3 linked regions of the Homo sapiens genome follow. The protein of the gene in region 3 purifies or fractionates together with the protein of the main gene of each other region. This does not show direct contact. Each region holds a gene or a part of one and is shown on either strand. Other genes may lie near its edges.

Region 1 (7,546 bases), on a different chromosome or scaffold from region 3:
CTCAATTAAGGCAGATTAATTATTAAGTGCAAAACTAATTATACACAGAATGGCTATGTCTCAGCTACTATTTTGGTGTCATCTTATGGTGGGCAAGTTTGAAAATAAGTAACCTCTTGTAATTACTTAAATAAATACCCATTGCCAAGGCCTTTGAAAATATCAAGTTCTATGTAAAGACAAAACAGTCATTAGAGGGAAAAATAACTTTAAGAAAATGAAACTGTTTACTGGAAAAGGAATGAAAAACCGGGAAAATACCAGATTCCTTTTTCTTCAGTAGGGTTTTCAAAATCTTTGCCAATTCCTATTAGACCATTGGGAAGGGAAGACAAAGAAGGAAAGGGAGAGATGTTAGAGGAAGGTTATGGGTTCCTGGCTTGACAGGTGGGAGAGCTCAGAGAGGTGGGGGCTCACTGGAGCCATGGAAATGACAGGGAAGGGGCCTAGCAAACACACCAGACCACAGTACTGTGCACAGACAGCTGGACTGACTAGAAAGTGTTTTATCCCCCAGAGTGGGGAAGGAAACAGGCTCCTCTGGGCACAATGACCTGGAGAGGGCAGAGCAGTCTTCTTGAGTTCCAAGCCATTCCGAGGAGCCAGAGTAGGGTGTAGACGGCAGCAGCCTCCCCGCCTGCCATGCCACAGCCTCTCCCTGCCATGCCACAGTTCAGCTCCGAGAGAGAGTGCCAAGGTTTGAGAGACAACCCGTGTTTAATCCTTCAGTGGTTTTGTAGAGAGTGAATTTCAAAATTCTTAGGGAGAATCAGTTTACACTTTTCTAACAAGGCTGAAGTAATATCTTTCCCAGCATACCTGCTGGAGGTTGGAGCATGCAGATACAGATCTCCAGTTCATGGCCCTCTCAAAGGCAGGCTGCCCGGGTGCCCCGGGAACCTATACAATGTGTATTATTTAATTATTATAAACATTTTCCATCAGTTGACTTTTTTCTTCCTGGAATGCATGAATGAGTTTTTCCAGATTTGTTTCTTGTATTTTGGCTCCCTGCCAGCCCTGGGGATACTGCTTTTGCAAAGCAGTCTGCTACATCGGCTCATATCCCCTAAAGAACTTAGGGTTCCACTTCCCAAGAGTTTGTAATTTTCCTGAGGGCAAAGCCTGTCTCTTGTTCATCTGTCTCTTGTTGCACCTCCAGGAAGGGCCTAACACACTGTTTGGCACAGAATAGGAGCTCAGGAGTGACTGTATTTTTCTTTGTAATCGAGAGTCTAATAGAAATTTTACCTCTAATAAGAGCACAGCCCACCTGAAACCAAAGTTCAATTATAATTGGATCACATCTGATTGGCAGTACTACATGATTCTGATTCACTTTTCAAAAATTAGAAAATAACTATTAAATAAGTACAGTTTATAGATGAAACATTTCCAAACACAGGGGCCACATGCAAATGTAAATAAAGGGATTCTTGCTTGTGAAACATTGGGAATCACTTTACTAATTTGGTCTTTTTCAAGAGAAGAGATTCCTTCAATTGATTGGATTGGTTGTGGGGACCCTGGGCAGAGTGTTTGGAAAGGGGTATCTTCTAGTTTTTAGCTCTGGCTTCTTTCCCTGGCCCTTAAAGCACATGAAATATTTAAGCTGTTTTACATATTCTCTTCCTTCACGTATCCTTTGGAGGAAGGAAGGTACCCAGCCCCACAAGTAATAGCTTTCCATTCTTCTTCCTGGAGCATCCACAAGATGTTTTTGTGGGGGAGAAACCAGCTAATTTCAGCTCCTCTATTAACTAGCTGTTTGACCTTAATCCCACTAGGCCTCAGTTATTTCATTTGTAAAACAAGAGGGTTGGATTACAAATTTTGTGTGTGTGTGTGTGTGTGTGTGTGTGTGGGAGAAACCAGCTAATTTCAGCTCCTCTATTAACTAGCTGTTTGACCTTAATCCCACCAGGCCTCAGTTATTTCATTTGTAAAACAAGAGGGTTGGATTAGACTACTAATTATTTATTCAAACCTTTATTGTGTCCCCATCATGTGTAAAAGGTTGTGCTAGGCACTGGAATTACAGGGTGGAATTGAAACAAGGGACTCCTCATTTACAATGGAGGCTGTATGAAGGTCTCTTACAATTTGGTGAGAAAAGTGGCGTGACAGTAGTTTGTTGAGAAGGCTGTGATAGAGAGGAGTGGTGTCTCATCCAGACTTGGAGTGGCCACAGAAAGCTTCTCGGAAGCTGAGACTGCAGGCAGGAGTGAGAATTAGCAGGTGGGTGGTGGGACAGGACAGAGATGGGGAGATACGGATGTTCAAGCAGAAGAGCATATGCAAAGACCCAGAAGGCAAAAGAGGCGGCTGTGTTCTGGAAATTGCAGGTAGTCAGTTTGTCTGAAGCGTAGAGTATGATTGGGGAAGGTGGGTGCAGAGAGGGGAGGGGAGGTAATGGTCAGTTTATGAGAGCCTTCTCGCCTTTTCAAAGGATCTGACCTGTATGATAGAATGATAGAACCAGATTTGCATTTTAAAAAGACCTCTCGGCCTGTGCAGTGGCTCACGCCTGTAATCCCAGCACTCTCGGAGGCCAAGGTGGGCAGATCACCTGACGTCAGGAGTTTGAGACCAGCCTGGCCAACATGGCGACACCCCGTCTCTACTAAAAATACAAAATTAGCCGGTCATGGTGGCACATGCCTGTAATCCCTGCTACTCGGGAGGCTGAGGCAGGAGAATCGCTTGAACTCGGGAGGCGAAGGTTGCAGTGAGCTGAGATCACGCCATTGCACTCCAGCCTGGGCAACAAGAGAGAAACTCCATCTCAAAAAAAAAAAAGTTGACTGGGCACAGTGACTCACACCTGTAATCCCGGCACTTTGGGAGGTTGAGGCAGGCAGATCACCTGAGGTCAGGAATTGGAGACTAGCCTGGCCAACATGGTTAAACTCTATCTCTACTAAAAATAAAAAAAAAATTAGCTGGGCGTGGTGGCAGGTGCCTGTAATCCCAGCTACTCGGGAGGCTGAGGCAGGAGAATCGCTTGAACCTGAGAGGCGGAGGTTGCAGTGAGCCAAGAACGCGCCATTGCACTCCAGCCTGGGCGACAAGAGTGAAACTGTCTGAAAAAATAAATAAAAATAAAAAATAAATAAAAAGACCTCTCTGAGCTTTGTCACTCAAAGTGTGGTCCACAGACCAGCAGCATCAGTCACACCTACTGTGTCAGAAGACTCGGGTGACTCACACACATTTCAGTCTGAGAAGCGCTGATTAGAGGGCAGTGTTCGGGACAGATGAGTGCAGGGGGAATTGCTAGGGGTTCGTAAAAGAGCTCTCTTTTTCTTCCAGCGGTGAAGCACTATGAGGACTGTAATTCTAATGGAGGCGTCTCTCATGTCTACACATCTATGTTTCTGTATCGTCTCTGCTGTTTTGCTTTATCGTGAAGTGTGGGGCATTTCGGCCATGTGCCCCCCTGAGTGGCATGGTTGTCTACCCTAGAGAAAGGGAAACTGAACACATGTTCCTGAGATCCCGGTGTTGTTATTTCCTCCAGCCTCCTTTCTCCTTCACAGTGTACTGAGCACAGTTAGTACAGTGCCATGAGCAGTTCTGTTAGTAGCTACCTTTGAGATCTCTCTCCCTGCCCTACTAACCCTGTGGCTCAAACAGAGTTATATGGTCACTGTTACACTATTCCATAATGATTTGTTTTCTTGCTGGTCTCTGTAGTAGAAACTGACCCTTTTGGGGCAGGGACCCTATCTTTCTTATTTCTGTACCAACATAGCCTTGGATCATGCCTAGTCCAAATAAGCATTTAATAAAGGCTTTTTGGTTGAAGAATGAATGAATGGATGGATGAATGAATGGAATTTAACCATTCAAACACTACTCTGATCCAAAAGGAGAACTTGATTTATAATTTGTCTTAATGTATCATTTGGCTATTTCTGTGTAATAAATCACCCCAAAATTTAGTGGTTTCAGATTCTCAGTTCTTAAGATCTGATCCCTGGACAGAAGCATCACCTGGGAACTTGCTAGAAATGCAAATTGTTGGGCCCCGTCACAGACCAGCTGGATTCAGAACTCTAGGGTGGGCTTAACAGTCTCTGTTTTAACAAGCCCTCATGGTGATTCCATGCTGGTTCAAGTTTGAAAGCACTGGATTAAAACGGTAGCCATTTATTTAGCTCATGATTCTGTAGTTTGGCAATTTAGGCTGCAGTCAGCTGGGTGGTTCTGGTCTCAGCTGAACTCCTTCAAGTTTGTCATCAGCTGTTTATCACCTTTGCTGGTCTTGTCTGGCTCTCTCACTTTGGGACTTCAGCTAGGACACTGAGCTGATCTGGCTCTCTTCTGCATGGGCTCCTGTTTTCCTGCAGGCTAGCCTTGAGCAGAATCCTGAGAGAATGGAAGCGTGCAAGGTATCTTGATGCCTAGCCTTGGAAATGGCACATCATCACTTCTGCATTGTCTTGTGTAGCAACTCACAAAGGTAGCTCAGATTCAAGGAGTGGAGAATTAGATTTCATCTCTTGATGGGAGGAGCTACAAAGTCTCATTGCAAAGATGTGTGTTATTAATTGGGAGTCATTGGATAACCCCTCTCAGGAAGAACCTTAAGAAGGTACTGTTTTGGGGTAGGACAGGGCACTCTGTTTCTTTCCCATCTACCTAGTAGGGGATAGATACTGCTTTCTTCTATAATATTCGGGCTAGGAAAAAATCCAAGAGTAGCTTAGGGTCCCCCCGTGATGTGAAGGGGAATTAGAGTGGAAGAGGTCATGGGAAAGTCTTGAGCTAGAGAGAGTACAAGTCCTTAATTCATCCTCTCCCAGGAACAAAGGGGAACTTCAAGGGGAGTGGACCCCAAATTGATTGTCTTGGCTTTCTCTGCCTTTTAAATACCTTTGGCTCAAAGAAACCACAAAATATGAGATGGCTGTTTCTCTCTTTGAGTCAGGGATTCAGACACAGGCTCTGGGAACATGACTTCAGCTTCGTGGAGCCAGGCCCTGCCTGGAAGCAGAATCTTTGTCCGTGGACATGGTGCCTAGGACAGCAGAAGACATTCCGGATGGGGTGTGATAGCTTCCTGGTTTGGACTTGGCAGAAGGCAATCCCCTGTGAGCAGTCCTCAGGAGCACTGGCAACACAGCAGTGCCATTGGCTCCCACCTGCCCAGGGTCACAGCTTGCCCACCCTTTAGGTATTTTTTTATTTTTATTTTTTTGAGACAGAGTCTCACTCTGTCGCCCAGGCTGGAGTGCAATGGCACCATCTTGGTTCACTGCAATCTCTGCCTCCCGGGTTCAAGCAATTCTCCTGCCTTAGCCTACCAAGTAGCTGGAGACTACATGCGTGTGCCACCATGCCCAGCTAGTTTTTGTGTTTTAGGAGAGACTAGTTTTGCCACATTGGCCAGGCCTGTCTCGACCTCTTGACCTCAAGTGATCCGCCCGCCTCGGCCTCCCAAAGTGCTGGGATTTACAGGTGTGAGCCACCACACCCAGCCCCATCCTCTAGTTATGATGATACTTTCTAAAGCTGAGAGTTGGGCCTGTGAATTATCTTATTGAGAGACAGAGCTTCACGGGATCTTAGAGGTTGGCACAGACGTTTACTAGCCCTGGTCAGATGCTAAGGCTCTGATGCCTCCTTAGCCCCGGCGTTGGCTTTGAGGCCATGTAGAATCACTCTGATATTCTTATTCACATCAACCTTTTGTTTTAATGTATTTGAAGATACCATGGTCTCTTTTAAATATTTTTTTCCCCGGGCCATGAACTTCACAGGTCTCTGTTTTTTATATAGGATAATAACACAATATTTGTAGAATAGTTTGGTTTGTAAAGCTCTTTGTAGAGCAGCTTTCACACATGGCTCACCAATTACCTCATTTGGTGCCCCTCACACTGGAGGCATGGTAGGAATTGGTGTCCTTATTACACAGAGGAGGAGAGCAAGGCTGGTGGTGGTGAAGTCACTCAGCCAGAGAAGCCAGAGTGTAACCTATTTCCTGGTACCAGGCTTTCTCTCCTGTTATATAGAACATCTTCCTGTCTCTGACCTCAGGGCGTCTCTCTTACCCTGGAGTCTCTACTTCCCATCCCCCATCCACACAACCCAGAATACACCCCTGTGGCTGGATGTGGCATTATTGGCTGTGAGTTGTCTGGCTGCTGCACAGTGTGCACAGACTCCCTCATACGGAGACTCACAGGACAGTCTGAAATGCTCATTTTTTTCAGTGGCCAGTCACAGTATTGGCACGTATCAAGCTTAGGGCCTGCTCAGCAAAGCACATGGCACCAATAATATTAGCCCTATTTTTATTATAAGCATCACTAAAAATTGCCATGTACTGTAGTCAAGTCAGGTCACAGTACACATCTGGTGTAGAGCAAGAGGAAGACTGTGAAATTCCCTCTTCCCTAGATCCTTAAGTGTTAGTCTTGGAAAAGAATTCAGAGGTCATTTCATTTAGCTTCCTTGTCTATCTGGTGAGGAGACTGAGACCCAGAGGTCTTGAGCAGCTTTCCAGGAGCCTCACAGCAAGTTAGTAATTTGTGTGGTTAGGTCATTAAGTTAGAGGTTAAGTTGTGAAACTGGCAAATAGGGCTATATTCCTGTCCTTAAAGAATGAGAGTGAAAGAAGAGGAAAAAGGCCTCCTTTAATTTGTTTTCCTGTCCATTTATTTGCTTGTTTTGGTAAATTAGGAGAGAGAGAGAATCCAAGATTCTAAACAAATATGTCAAATTACCAGCACTGGGTTGAGTTTGAACTGTGACCTCACGTGGTTTTTTAAAAGACTACGTTCAGAGGCTGGGCTCAGTGGCGCACGCCTGTAATGCCAGCACTTTGGGAGGCCTAGGAGGGCAGATCACTTGAGGTCACGAGTTCAAAACCAGCCTGACCAACATGGCGAAACCCTGTCTGTACTAAAAATACAAAAATTAGCCAGGCGTGGTGGTGGGCACCTGTAATGCCAGCTACTTGGGGGGCTGAGGCAGGAGAATCACTTGAACCTGGGAGGCGGAGATTGCAGTGAGCCAAGATTGCACCACTGTACTCCAGCCTGGGCGACAGAGCAAGACTCCATCTCAAAAAAAATAAAAAATAAAAAAACTAAAGACTATGTTCAGGATACTGTATTGCTGAAATACAAATGATATTCATAATGCAGTTTTGGAGAAATTTCAGCCAAGGATGGAAGCCTGGGGAACACTGTGTTCGTCCAATCATACTGCTAGGTCCTTAAAAGCATGGGCCCTGTCTTCACTTCAGTTTGTAGCTCCAACACCCAGTACAATTGCCAACAGAGAGAGGGTACTCAGGAGGCATTTTCTGAGTGACCACATGCGCAGTGGAACACTGACTCAGTGATTCCTCTCTCTCCCCTGCCTGTCTCCATCTGTCTCCCCTTGCCCCTGCCATAGGGAAGTCTAAGCAATTTGGCCTTTTTGAAATGAAAATAGTGTCTCAGAATCCCCGCAAAGCCTCTGGGTTTTCAGGAGTGTCCACTGAAGTCCCCCCTTCCCCAGGACCTTTGTCATTTGAGACATGCTCTAACCT
Region 2 (3,474 bases), on a different chromosome or scaffold from region 3:
GAAAACAGTGGCTTCACATTTTATGTTTTCTTGGATTAAACTAATCAGACTCCTGAAGCTTAGTTACATGTGCTTTTAAAAATAATGCTTGCGTAATTGATAATTTAGTGTTAATCATTTAAATGTTAACTTAGGTTGTTGGTGCTATCGAATAATACTCAGTTCGAGTAAGTAAAAAGTCAGATCCTGAGCAATCAGAGGTGCAATTTTGTTCATTATGACTGTATTCTACTTCAGTTTCGGTTCAGGAAAACCCATTCTATAGTTCCCATTGACTACCTTTGGGTACTCATACACTGTATTAAACATCAGATAATTCTAACATTCATTCAGAACTGGAATGCCCGCTCTATGCTGGATTCTGTTAGTTGCTGAGGATACAATAGTGACCAAAAATGCAATTTCCTTATGCATCCTTTACCTCTTCTGTTCTGCAACCAACATTTGTATGAGCCCAAAATTCCCTTGTAAGATATAAAAAAAAAGACTTAAGTTCAATGTTTCATTTCACTCCGTTTTTATCCTGTTTTCAGTTTATGTAATAAGAACGGGCAAACAGCTGAAGATCTCGCTTGGTCATGTGGATTTCCAGACTGTGCCAAGTTTCTTACAACAATTAAATGTATGCAGACAATAAAAGCAAGTGAACACCCTGACAGGAATGATTGTGTTGCCGTGCTCAGACAGAAACGGAGTCTCGGAAGTGTAGAAAATACCAGTGGGAAAAGGAAGTGCTGGTAAGTAACTCAGAGCTGCTGCTTTTTTCCTCCCGCAGTGATCTCTTGTTTGCATAGCATTTATTATTCCATTTAATACTGACACTCGTATTTCTAGTAGTATTGTTTCATTCTCATTAACATTTTAGTACTGGTTATACTTACCAGAGTCTAGAGACCAAAAATGGGACTGCATGGTGGAAGTTTGGGGATAAAACTCTTTTTAAAAAAAAGTTTTTAATGTTAACGTGTTTTTAAAAACAGATGTCACGTGGGTTATGAAGAAGTCTGAAGAACGCCTTCATTTCATGCAAATCTATAAGCTCCTGCTTTTGGCTTTACCATATGTTGTGTCTAATCTCCTTCTGAGAAGGACGAAAAACTTTCTTCCAAGTGAAGATCCATTTAAGAACACATGTATTTACATGCCTATAATATGCTGGTTGTGTATGCTTTGTCTTTTAAGTTATTAAAGGAACGTCTAAAAAATACATTCTCCGTGCAGTATTTACAACCTTTGAAAAAGGTCATAATTTAAATCGTCAAACTAGAACCAGGATTTAATGTGAAAAATTAAACTGATTCTTTATTCACAAATTTATAATACCACTCTACTGCAGTCTTTGACTCCAAGATATTTTAAATCATATTTGGTCGCTGAGGAAGACATAAGTTATAGTATGCATCCTTGTTCCAAAAATCTGGGCCCTTCCATCCGCACCAGCCCTGGATAGAGAAGACGGGAAAGGAAAGCCTTTTACAAAGTTACAAGATTATGTCATGGAAATCGTGACATCAGGCTCTGTCAGCAGGACCTTGGAATAAGACTCTAAATGGCTTTATCATTCAAGGATTTGAATTCCTACTAGCATAGAAAAGTAACGTATCTTACCCTTTAAGGTAGGTTTTTGAACTTTTAATTCTATGTATGTAATTCATCATAAAAATCATTAAAAAAAATTTACCTGTAACTGTTATTCCAGATACCACACTTTACTGATTCTGAGATGTATAGTTTTACCACTTGCAACTGATAGCATGTGACAATTGAACTAGCAATCTGTTTTTCTTAATAGTCCATAAAGGACTGTAAGAGACCATTCAGTGGCATCTTAGGATTGAAGTACTGTAGTGAGAAACCTCAGCTTGCCCCCTGCCTGGCACTCTGTGCCCTTTCATTTTCAAATTCCAGGTGTTACTCAATTCTACTTCCCATGTTTCATGTCAGTATTAATCCTTTTTGCCAGCAGAGAAAATTACTTTCAAGCAAAATCTCATTTAGAGTATGAAAATTTCTCAGATTTCTCCTAGGGCCACTGAGTTATTTTATTAAAGAAGAAAACTTAAAAGCCAATAACTGGTCTGTATTATATGATTCTTAAATGCTTTGAGAAATCCTTGCAAGGAGGCTGAGACTCTGAAAATACCATGAAGTGAGTGACAAGCAGCGGTCTGACTCCCTCCTAATAAGATACACGTTGTCAAAAAACAAGATAAAAGTAAAAAATCCTCTACCAGTCCTAGGTAATCCCCCACTCTCCCTAGGTAACCAGCATTCTATTAATCATCTCATTTTTTCAGCAAAACTTTCTCTATTAATTTAATGTCCTAAAATCTGTTCTCTTAACAGACAGAGAAAAAAGGCTCATTCTGTTTTAACCTTTTTTTGATCCTTTTACACATGAAGGCCTTGTCCAGGTAACCAGATCCAGATTTTTTAAAGGAGAAATTGGTAGAGAGGGTGTCAGAATGGGATTGCATAGGGACATAGTGCATAGGACATGCTTCTTTCCTGTGAGATGACCAGCATGGGAACTTCAAACAGGAAAGCACCACAAGAAGGCAAAGAGGTCAGGCAGAGATGGAACTCTCCTCTGGCCTCCTGGGTTCCTGGAGTCAAGTGAATCAATAGTTTTAATGGCAGGACCTTGGCTGCACAGTTTCTTGTGTATACAAATAGAGCAAGGAGGTTTCTGCTGTTGAAAAGTTCTATAGAAATAGAACTAGCAAAGATGGAGATTGCAATTCTCAGAGAAAGAAATCAGGGACAATCCCTTACTCTAATTGTTCAGAAACCTTACCTAGATAATGCCATGTAGTGCAGAGCCCCTTGAGTCAACCAGAAAAGAGAAATTTGATGATGAAAATAATTAAGGCTTCTCCCTGCCTTTAAGAAAAAATCGAAATGCCTGGTTCACAAAGACCACCCTTTCTGACTGAGCTTGGTGTGTCCTTCCAGCCTCACCTCTTCGCCTAGCTCTGGACGCACTGATCTACCTGCAGTGCGGCTTTCACTGTTTCTACAAGGCAGGGGCCACCACAGCACCAGCCTCGTAGAAGCACCTGAGATACCATTTTTTTTTTCTCGAGAGTCCTTTTTGCACTCTCCTTCTCTGTCCTACCCTAAAGGTTTTAGCTCCCGAAAAACCTCGTGTAATACTAGTGCTTAGGACAGTGCCTGGCACTTGTTAGGTACTTTAATAAATACTGAATGGAATGAACACCTTGCTACAGAACAAGAATATTGCTACTATATTCAGTAAGATACATGCACCAGTCAAAAAACCTTTTATAGACTTCAAATTCCAAATGCTGTGAAAGAGAAAAGGAAAAAAAAACACTTAAAACTGTAACAACACATTTCTATCCTATTAGTGTTTATACCCTTATCATAAACAAAAGACTTCAGTAAACTGAGGATATAACAGAGTTGGACTACACACATTAAAAACTTTTTTTTGAGCTGGAATTTCACTCC
Region 3 (9,164 bases):
TAAAAATACAAAAATTAGCTCTGCATAGTGGCGCATGCCTGTAGTCCCTGCTACTTGGGAGGCTGAGACAGGAGAATTGCTTGAACCCGTGAGGCAGAGGTTGCAGTGAGCTGAGATTGCACCACTGCACTCTAGCCTGGGTGACAGAGCAAGACTCTTTCTCAAAAAAGCCAAACAAACAAACAAACAAACAAAACAATAACATTACCAGTAAGTGGAGTGTCCAGGCACTCCATCCCGGACAACAGAATGAGACCCTGTCCCCCACCAAAAAAGAAAAAAAAAAAAGCAAATGGATTAAATATGTAATCAATCAAAGGGCAATCATTGTTAGACTAGGTAGAAAGAAATAAAAACAAAAACAAAAACCCTCAAGGTCTAGTTATATGCTGTCTACAGGAGACACACTTTTCAGATTAAAAAATACAAATGGTTGAAAGTAAAAGGATGGAAAAGATATATCATACAAATAGCAGCAATAAGAAAGCTGAAGTGGTTATGCTAATATCAGGCAAAATGAATATAAAACCAATAAAAAATTCTAGGTGTAAAGAAGGAAATTTTATGATGAGAAGGGTCAATCCTCAGGAATATATAACAATTATAAAGATATATGTCAGAGCCCCAAAATACATGAAACACAAACTTTCAGAACGAAGAGCAAAATAGACAATTCAACAATATTTGGAGAACTTCAATACTCCACTTTCAACAATGGACAGAACAAGTAGGCAGAATATCAACAAGAAACTAGAAGACTTGAACAACACTATACACCAATCAGACCTAACAGACATCTAACTATAGAACACCCAGTGATGGAAGAATGCAAATTCTTCTCAAGTGATGGAATATTCTCTGGGATAGGCCATATACCAGGCCATAAAACAAATCTCAATAAATTTTAAAAAGATTGAAATCATACAAGGTATGTTCTCTGACCACAATAGAATGAAATTAGAAATTAATAACAAAAATAAATTTGGGAATTCACAAACGTGAAAATGAAAAACACACTCCTAAATAGCCAATTGACAAAAAAGGGTATCAAAAGAGAAAATTAGTATATGCTTTGAGATGAATGAAATGATGACACAACAAAACAAAAGTTATGGGATACAGCTAAAGCAGGGTTGGGAAATTTAGAGCTTAAACACATACGTTAAAAAAATAAAGATCTCAAATCAATAATCATAACTTTCATCTTAAAACAATCAGGGTAAAAGGGGGCATAAACCCAAAGCATAAAGAAGAAGGAAATAATCAAGAAGAGAATAGAAAAATGGTAGAGAAAACCAACAAAACTAAAAGTTGGTGCTTTGGAAAGGTCAACAAAATTGAGAAACCTTTAGCTATACTGACTTTGTTTTGTGTTGCTATAACAGAAGGCTGGGTAATTTATAAACAAAATAGGTCATGATTATTAGCTCGTGGTGCAAATGGCTGGGAAGCTCAAGGGCATGGCCCTGGCTTCTGGTGAGGTCTTCTGTGCTGGGTCATAACATGGCACAGAAGGTCAAAAGGGAAGCGGACAAGTGCAAAGAGAGAAAACCTAAGGGGTATCCTGGCTTTATAACAACCCATTCTCAAGGGAACTAATTCATTCCCAAGAGAACTAATCCAGTCTCATCAGAGTGAGAACTCACTCACTATGAGAACAACACCAGGGCCAGCATTGAGGCTATCACCTTTACTTGGGAGGCTGAACTGGAGGAGCACTTGAGACCAGGAGTTTGAGGTTGTAGTGAGTCATGATTGCACCATCTCTCCCCAGCCTGAGTGACAGAGAGATACCCTATATATTTTTTTTAAAAAAGAACAGCACCAAGCCATTCACAAGATCCACCCCCTTTATTCAAATCCCTCCCAATAGGCCCCACCTCCCAATACCATCACATGGGGAATCAAATTTCAACATGAGTTTTGATGGAGACAAACTCAAACCATATCCAAACCATAACACTGACCAATAAATAAAAGAAAGAAGACTCAAATTACTAAAACCAGCAATAAAGAGAGGACATTAATATCAATGTTACAGATATAAAAAGGATTATAATACTATGAACAACGTTAGGCCAACAAATTAGACAACTTACATGAAATGGACGTATTCCTAGAAAGATGCAAACTACCACAACCAACTCAAGAAGAAATAGAAAATCATAGTAGACTTATAACAAGAGATTGAATTAGTAATTTAAAAGCTACCTACAAAGGAAAGCCCAGGCCTAGGTGACTTCACTGCTAGACTCTATCAGACAGTTAAAGAAGAGTTAATACAAATTCTTCACAAACACTTCCAAAAAATAGAAAAGGAGGGAACACTTCCCAGCTTATTTTACGAGGCCAGTTATATCCTGATAGCAAAACCAAAGACATTACAAGAAAACTACAGACCAATATCTCTAAGGAATATAGACATAAAAATATGCAACAAAATACTAGCAAACTGAATGTGGCAATATATAAAAAGAATTATACACCATGGCTAAGTGGGATTTATACCAAGAATGCAAGGTTGATTTCATGTCCCAAAATCAATCAATGTAATACACTGTATCTTTGGGAGGCTGAGGCAGGCAGATCATGAGGTCAAGAGAAAGAGACCATCCTGGCCAACATGGTGAAACCCCGTCTCTACTAAAAATATAAAAATTACCTGGGCGTGGTGGCACGTGCCTGTAATCCCAGCTACTCGGGAGTTGAGGCAAGAGAATTGCTTGAATCCAGGAGGCGGAGGTTGCAGTGCGCTGAGATCACACCACTGCACTCTAGCCTAATGACAGAGCAAGACTCCGTCTCAAAAAAAAAAAAAAAAAAAAAACAAAAAAAACACCATATCAATAGAGTAAAGGACAAAAACCACATGGTCATTTCAATAAATGCAGAAAAAGGATTTGTCAAAATTCAACACTTCTTCAAGATAAAAACAGACGACCTTCTAGGAATAGAAGGAAACTTCCTCACCTGTATAAAAGGCAACTATTTAGAATTCACATTAACATCATACTTAGTGGTAAAAGACAACGCTTTTCTCCTAAGAACAGGAACAAGATAAGTATGTTTGGCCACTCTTGCCATTTCTATTCAACATTGTAATGGAGGTCTAGTGTCTTAGCTTGGGCTGCCATAATAAAATATCATAGACTGGGTGGCTTAAACAATAGAAATTTATTTTCTCACAAATTTAGGAAGTTCTCATTGTACTCAAGGCAAGAAAACTCTGGACTAGGGTGTTGGCTGTTGAGATGGAAATTGGTGGTCAGATTCAGGATACGTTTTGAAGGTAACGTTTACAAGATTTGCTCATAGGTTACAAGAGGAGAAGGTGAAGAGAGAGAACAATAAAGAATTAACATGTACATGTTTGGCTAGAGAAACCTGGTGAACCTCGGGGCTCTTTAGTGGATGGAAGACCAGGAGAGGAAGAATCAAGAATTATCTTTTTTGGCCGTTTGATGTTTGAGCTTCTGAACCCCCAAAATCTGAGACAGGTCTCAGTCAATTTAGGAAGTTTATTTTGCCAAAATTAAGAATGCGCGCCCATGACATAGCCTGAGGAGGTGCTGAGGACATGTGCCTAAGGTGGGTGGAGCACAGCTTGATTTTATATTATATATTTTAGGGAGACATGAGACATCAATCAACATATGTAAGATGAACATTGTATTGGCCTGGAAAGGTGGGACAACTCAAAGCAAAGGCGGGACAAACTCGAAGCCAGGAAGGGGCTTCCAGGTCATAGGTGGGTAAGAGACAAATGGTGGCATTCTTCTAAGTTTCTGATTAGCCTTCCAAAGGAGGCAATCAGATATGCATTTATCTCAGTGAGAAGAAGGATGAGAGGCAGGTTTGCCCTAAGCAGTTCCCAGCTTGACTTTTCCCTTTAGCTTAATGATTTTGGGGCCCCAAGATTTCTTTTCCTTTCACCAGCTATTACATACCCAAGAGATGTTTAGCAAGGAGTTGAATACATATGCCTGTAGTTCCCAGAAGGATCAGAGTCTGAATGATATACAGTTGAATACATATGCCTGTAGTTCCCAGAAAGATCAGAGTCTGAATGATATACAGTTGAATACATATGCCTGTAGTTCCCAGAAAGATGAGAGCCTGATGATATGAAGAGAAAGGTGGCGGGAGATGGGGGGCGGGGGGCAGTAAAGCATCCTGGAGATGCCGATGTCCGGAAGTAAAGGAGGACCAGCCAAGAAGTTTGAGAAGAATCAGCTACTGTAGGACAGAAAAAAAAGCGAGCTGCCCAGACAGCAAGATAGTAAAGTGTTTCAAGGGTGTGGTAGAATGGGGCTAGGAGTCATGCTAGATGCATTGAGAAGAAACAATTGGGATTTATCTTGCTGGTCGCTGGTGTCCTTGAGAGGGCTATTCAGTGGAGGGGTGGGGAAGGGGACTAATTGGGGTTAATTAAGTTGAAAAGGTGAGGTAAGATAGTGGCAACTATTTCCTTGAGACTTAGTCTCTCTCTATAGCCCAGATTGGAGTGCAGTGGAATGATCTCGGTTCACTGCAACCTCCGCCTCCCGGGTTCAAGCGATTCTCCTGCCTCAGCCTCCTGAGTAGCTGGGACTACAGGCGCCTGCCACCACGCCTGGCTAATTTTTGTATTTTTAGTAGAGACGGGGTTTCACTATGTTGGTCAGGCTGGTCACAAACTCCTGACCTCAAGTGATCCGCCTGCCTTGGCCTCCCTGTTTTGCTAGGATTACAGGCGTGAGCCACCGCACCTGCAACTATTTTCATTTGACTGATGGGGCAGTGCACATTTTGGTTTGCATTTGTATTTACGAATGTTTGAGAGAAAAAACTCAAATATCTTACAAGCCTATGTGTCTGGTTCCATTTTGAAGTACTGACCTAGGATCTCTGTACCTACTGAATTTTTTTTGAGAGATAACATACACCTGAAAGTGCATAAAGTGCACTGTCTTAAAATGTACAGCTTGATCCTTCTTTAAAAAAAATCATATACGTACGCCCATGTAACTACTGTTCATATCTAGATGTTGAACACCTCCAACACATCCAACATAACCATAATGTTCCTCTGCACCTTCCCTGTCTATAATCTCTCAGAAGTAAACCAATATTCCGACTCCTATAAAATCCATTAGCTTTACTACATGTTTCAAAGAAAACAAATGAGAACTCTGAAGGACATTTAATTGGAAAACTGCTTTAGCACATTATAAACTTACCAATTTGCTTGTAAACGCTAACCATTTGGCGCCAAAATCCTGGGAGGGTCTTTTAAACCGTTCTTCCTCAAAGCACCGCCCCACTTTTTACACCACGCCTCCTTTTGCTCTGTTCCTTCCCCCACAATATTGGGACACCCTAGGCGGTAGAAGCAGCCGCTTTTCTGTCATGCGCATTGCGGAGAGTCGTTCTTCCCTCTTTCCCGACTTCACCACTCACTGGGATCAGACCCCTGTCATGCGCATTGAGAGTCCTCTAGACAGGCGCTCCTCGCAGCACCGTAGTGCGCTTGCGCTGAGCAGCCCGCGAGGGCGGAAGTGGGAGCTGCGACCGCGCTCCCTGTGAGGTGGGCAAGCGGCGAAATGGCGCCCTCCGGGAGTCTTGCAGTTCCCCTGGCAGTCCTGGTGCTGTTGCTTTGGGGTGCTCCCTGGACGCACGGGCGGCGGAGCAACGTTCGCGTCATCACGGACGAGAACTGGAGAGAACTGCTGGAAGGAGACTGGATGATAGAATTGTGAGTGCGGGGCGGCCAGGGTCCTACGTCCGTGCCTGGACACACGACTTCACCCCGCACGTTCCTCGTGCGGGTCGCAGGCTCCCCAGGACTGCGCCTCCGAGTTGCGGAGCGAGCGTCCCCGACTTCTGCAGCTCCCCAAACTCTTGGGATCTGCCGCCAGCTTGGTCCCACCCCCTCGTCTCTTACCCGTGAATGTTAAGTTTCTTCTGGGGTGCACCCTCGTTTCGTTTCTTGGGTTGTGGTGCGCCCAAAGGGTTAGTGCCAATGCGAATTCTGACATTTTTCATGACTTTGAGGATGCGACTGGGGCGCGGGGAGGGAGGTGTCCGACTCGTGTCTAAGTAGTTAAAGTGATTCTTCACAGACTTCTACACTTATTTTCACCACATTTTACATAAGAGAATATTGAGCAAAATTTCTCCTCTCGTTTTGTCTGTCCTTAAAAGATAGTCTCTTTATGGTGTTGGAATTTGGCGCTTTTAAGCTTTTTTTAATGGATTGGGTACGTTTCTTTTTTATTGTAAATACTGAGTCAATTCAAGTTGGGTTATTTTTAAGTTTTCGTTTTCTCTTTTTGCCTCCTCTTTTGCTTTCTCTTTTTTTCACTCCTCATCTCATTTTTCCTTTGGGTGTCTTTGTAGTGTAGAGAATACCTTGGGTTGTGACTCCTAGGTCTTTGTAAATGGTATTACATTAAAAGATAATGTATTAATGTATACACTCTCAAGAGCGCCAGGTCATCATTTATTGCTCGAACGAAATCATGTATTTTGTGTGGTGATTTCAATTTAATAATATCTGTTCTGCCGCGGTGGGAAATAAAGTATCTGTCTTTGCTTTAGATGCTAAGTCGTTGTTGATGGTGGTATTATACATATTAGCAGTATTTACTGATAATAGTAAAAGCATAATTATTAACAGTGTACTGGACACCACTAAGCACCTTTACACGAATACCATATTTAATTCCCTACAAATTCTCTATGACAGGTGTTTTTCACGTTTTACAAATGAGTAACAAGATACCTAAATACTTTAGTTAACCTATGCAGATATTGCTGTGCTGGCTTTCTTTGGGTCTTCAGAGTAGGCATACAATAATTGTTGTTAGAACACCTTCTTCTTTAAAAAGGTTCAGCTGGAAGTGGCGTACGCTACCCAGGAGATTGAGGTATGAGGATGACTTGAGCCCAGGGGTTCAAGAGATCCTGGGCAACTAGCAAAATAAATAAGTAAATAAATAAAAATGAAAAGACAACAGGGTTCAGGTGAGTGTTTTCTTGTGTCACGAATACAGCAAGGGTTGTCAAGTTAAGGAGGCCAGTGAAAGTGACATCCCCAAGGGAGAACCCAGAAGGCTAAATCAGTAAGTCCTGTGTTATTTTTTAAAAAAACAAAACTGGCCGGCGCGGTGGCTCACGCCTGTAATCCCAGCACTTTGGGAGGCCGAGGCCGGTGGATCACGAGGTGAGGAGATCGAGACCATCCTGGCTAACACGGTGAAACGCCGTTTGTACTAAAAATACAAAAAATTACCTGGGCGTGGTGGCACGCGCCTGTAGTCCCAGCTACTCGGGAGGCTGAGGCAGAAGAATCGCTTGAATCTGGGAGTCAGAGGTTGCAGTGAGCCGAGGTCGCACCACTGCACTCCAGCCTGGGCGACAGAGTGAGACTCAATCTCAAAAAAAAAGTAGAACATTTATATGGAGGGTAAGATAAAGGGAAATTTTCATAGTATGCATGTAGTCTGCAATTCTGAAATGAATTTTCATTCAGGCACCATTGAAAGCTTCAGGGGAGAGGAACTGTGACACTTTTTCAGTCATCATCATGAGTAACTTGTTTTAGATCGTGCCTGTAAAATAGTGTTATAAGCAATATATTAAGCAATAGTGATCGTGTGTGTATATGCAAAATACAGTCAAGTATTACTCAAGGATATTTTTTAACTCATTATGGTCCAACTATATAAATACAGCAATCAGAAGTAGTATTAAGGAGAACAAGACTAACAAAACATTGAGTATGAGGTAAATCCACATTGGAGCATCTATCTGAAATTATGCTATAGAGTAGTAGTTTTTCTTTTTCCTTAAGTAGAGATTCTAAAGTAAGTTTTTAGAAAGCAACTGACAGCCTGGGCAACATGGCAAAAACCAGTCTCTACAAAAAAATACGAAAAATTAGCTGGGCGTGTGGGCAGGCATCTGTAGTCCCAGCTACTTGGGCTGAGGTGGGAGGATGTCTTGAGCCCGGGAGGTTGAGGTTGCAGTGAGCCCAGATGGCGCCACTGCCCTCCAGCCTGGGTAACAAAGCGAGACCCTGTTTCAAAAAATAAAAAAGCAACTGAGCAACAAAACGAACCTGAAAAAGAAGGACTCTAGTAGTTTTAGTAATAGTCTGCTCCTAATTACAAGTGAATTATCTACAGTAAATCCATTTCTGCTCAGAAGTTTTGTCATGGAGATATTTTCATTGTAATACGATTTATTGTTAGGAGCTTGGCTTTTATACTACCAGTTTGTCTTGTTCTACAATGTCTATTTTAGGAGTTTGGTTTTCATAAAACAAGTGAAGAAAATGTGAAGTACAGAAAGTATAGTTTTGTGTTTAACTGCTTTAGGCTTTATTCTTCCTGGTTCTGTTAAAAAAAAAAAAAAAAAAAGAACAACCCTGTGGTGTATTATAAGATAAAATACAATAAAGTGGAAAAATAAGATCCTCAGGAGATAATACCAGAGGAGTAATTTAAATGCTAATATGCTTGCATTTGTAAATCCAAGGTCTTGGAAACAGGATGACCTAACTGGCCAAGAGTTTTGTTTGGCCTGCTTAGTATTTGTGTGTGGGTTATTTTTTGAGGTAACATTCTCATATAAAAATGCAGCTCTCCATCTTCTTTTAAATATGAATAGCCAGCCTTAGTGTGCCAGCATCCTTAGTGGCAATCCTACTTAATAATGGTTGCCACTTTAAGATGGAATATGTGCTTTCTTATTCACCACAGCCCAGGACACTTCTGTTTTTCCAACACCTTGCATTTGTGACTCTGCATTATAAATTATTAAAATTGGTAAGCTCTAACTTTGGTCTTGAGCTTTCTGGTGGCCACACCGTTAATAGAGAAATGCAAAAGTTTTCTAAAGAGCTGTTTTGCATGTGAAAAAATCCTGTGTCTTATTCTCAGAATTTTATTTGATTAGCATCATCAGTTCATCATTCTTGATTTCCGGATTGTTAGATCTACCCTTAAAAGTTTTTCATCTGCATAAAATTAACCACCTTATCATCTTCAGTGTTTTCATATGAAATATTCTTCATAAATTATACATTTAAATTTTTTATCCCAAGATAAATGGTCATACTAAAGTGCTTAACTTTTTTTAAAAAAAAATCTGTATTTCTTAGTTATGCCCCGTGGTGCCCT

The links.
Region 1: the proteins of TMX1 (region 3) and PODXL2 purify together in Homo sapiens (affinity purification with mass spectrometry; 2 studies listed by BioGRID and IntAct, with this or other methods). This does not show direct contact.
Region 2: the proteins of TMX1 (region 3) and UFSP2 purify together in Homo sapiens (affinity purification with mass spectrometry; 2 studies listed by BioGRID and IntAct, with this or other methods). This does not show direct contact.

What each region holds. Positions count from the first base shown.
Region 1 is NC_000003.12:127,631,639-127,639,184, forward strand, and holds part of PODXL2 (podocalyxin-like protein 2 precursor), read left to right. Parts: intron 1-7,546. UniProt on the Homo sapiens protein: Acts as a ligand for vascular selectins. Mediates rapid rolling of leukocytes over vascular surfaces through high affinity divalent cation-dependent interactions with E-, P- and L-selectins.
Region 2 is NC_000004.12:185,399,037-185,402,510, forward strand, and holds the end of UFSP2 (ufm1-specific protease 2), read right to left. Parts: intron 1,688-3,474; exon of another isoform or gene 1,443-1,687; coding exon 1,356-1,442; 3' UTR 982-1,355; coding exon of another isoform or gene 981-981; 3' UTR 742-980; coding exon of another isoform or gene 534-741; 3' UTR 501-533; downstream 1-500. Other genes in the region: ANKRD37 (ankyrin repeat domain-containing protein 37), read left to right, coding at 534-741. UniProt on the Homo sapiens protein: Thiol-dependent isopeptidase that specifically cleaves UFM1, a ubiquitin-like modifier protein, from conjugated proteins, such as CD274/PD-L1, CYB5R3, DDRGK1, MRE11, RPL26/uL24, TRIP4 and RPL26/uL24.
Region 3 is NC_000014.9:51,234,711-51,243,874, forward strand, and holds the start of TMX1 (thioredoxin-related transmembrane protein 1 precursor), read left to right. Parts: upstream 1-5,536; 5' UTR 5,537-5,582; coding exon 5,583-5,734; intron 5,735-9,145; coding exon 9,146-9,164. UniProt on the Homo sapiens protein: Thiredoxin domain-containing protein that participates in various redox reactions through the reversible oxidation of its active center dithiol to a disulfide and catalyze dithiol-disulfide exchange reactions.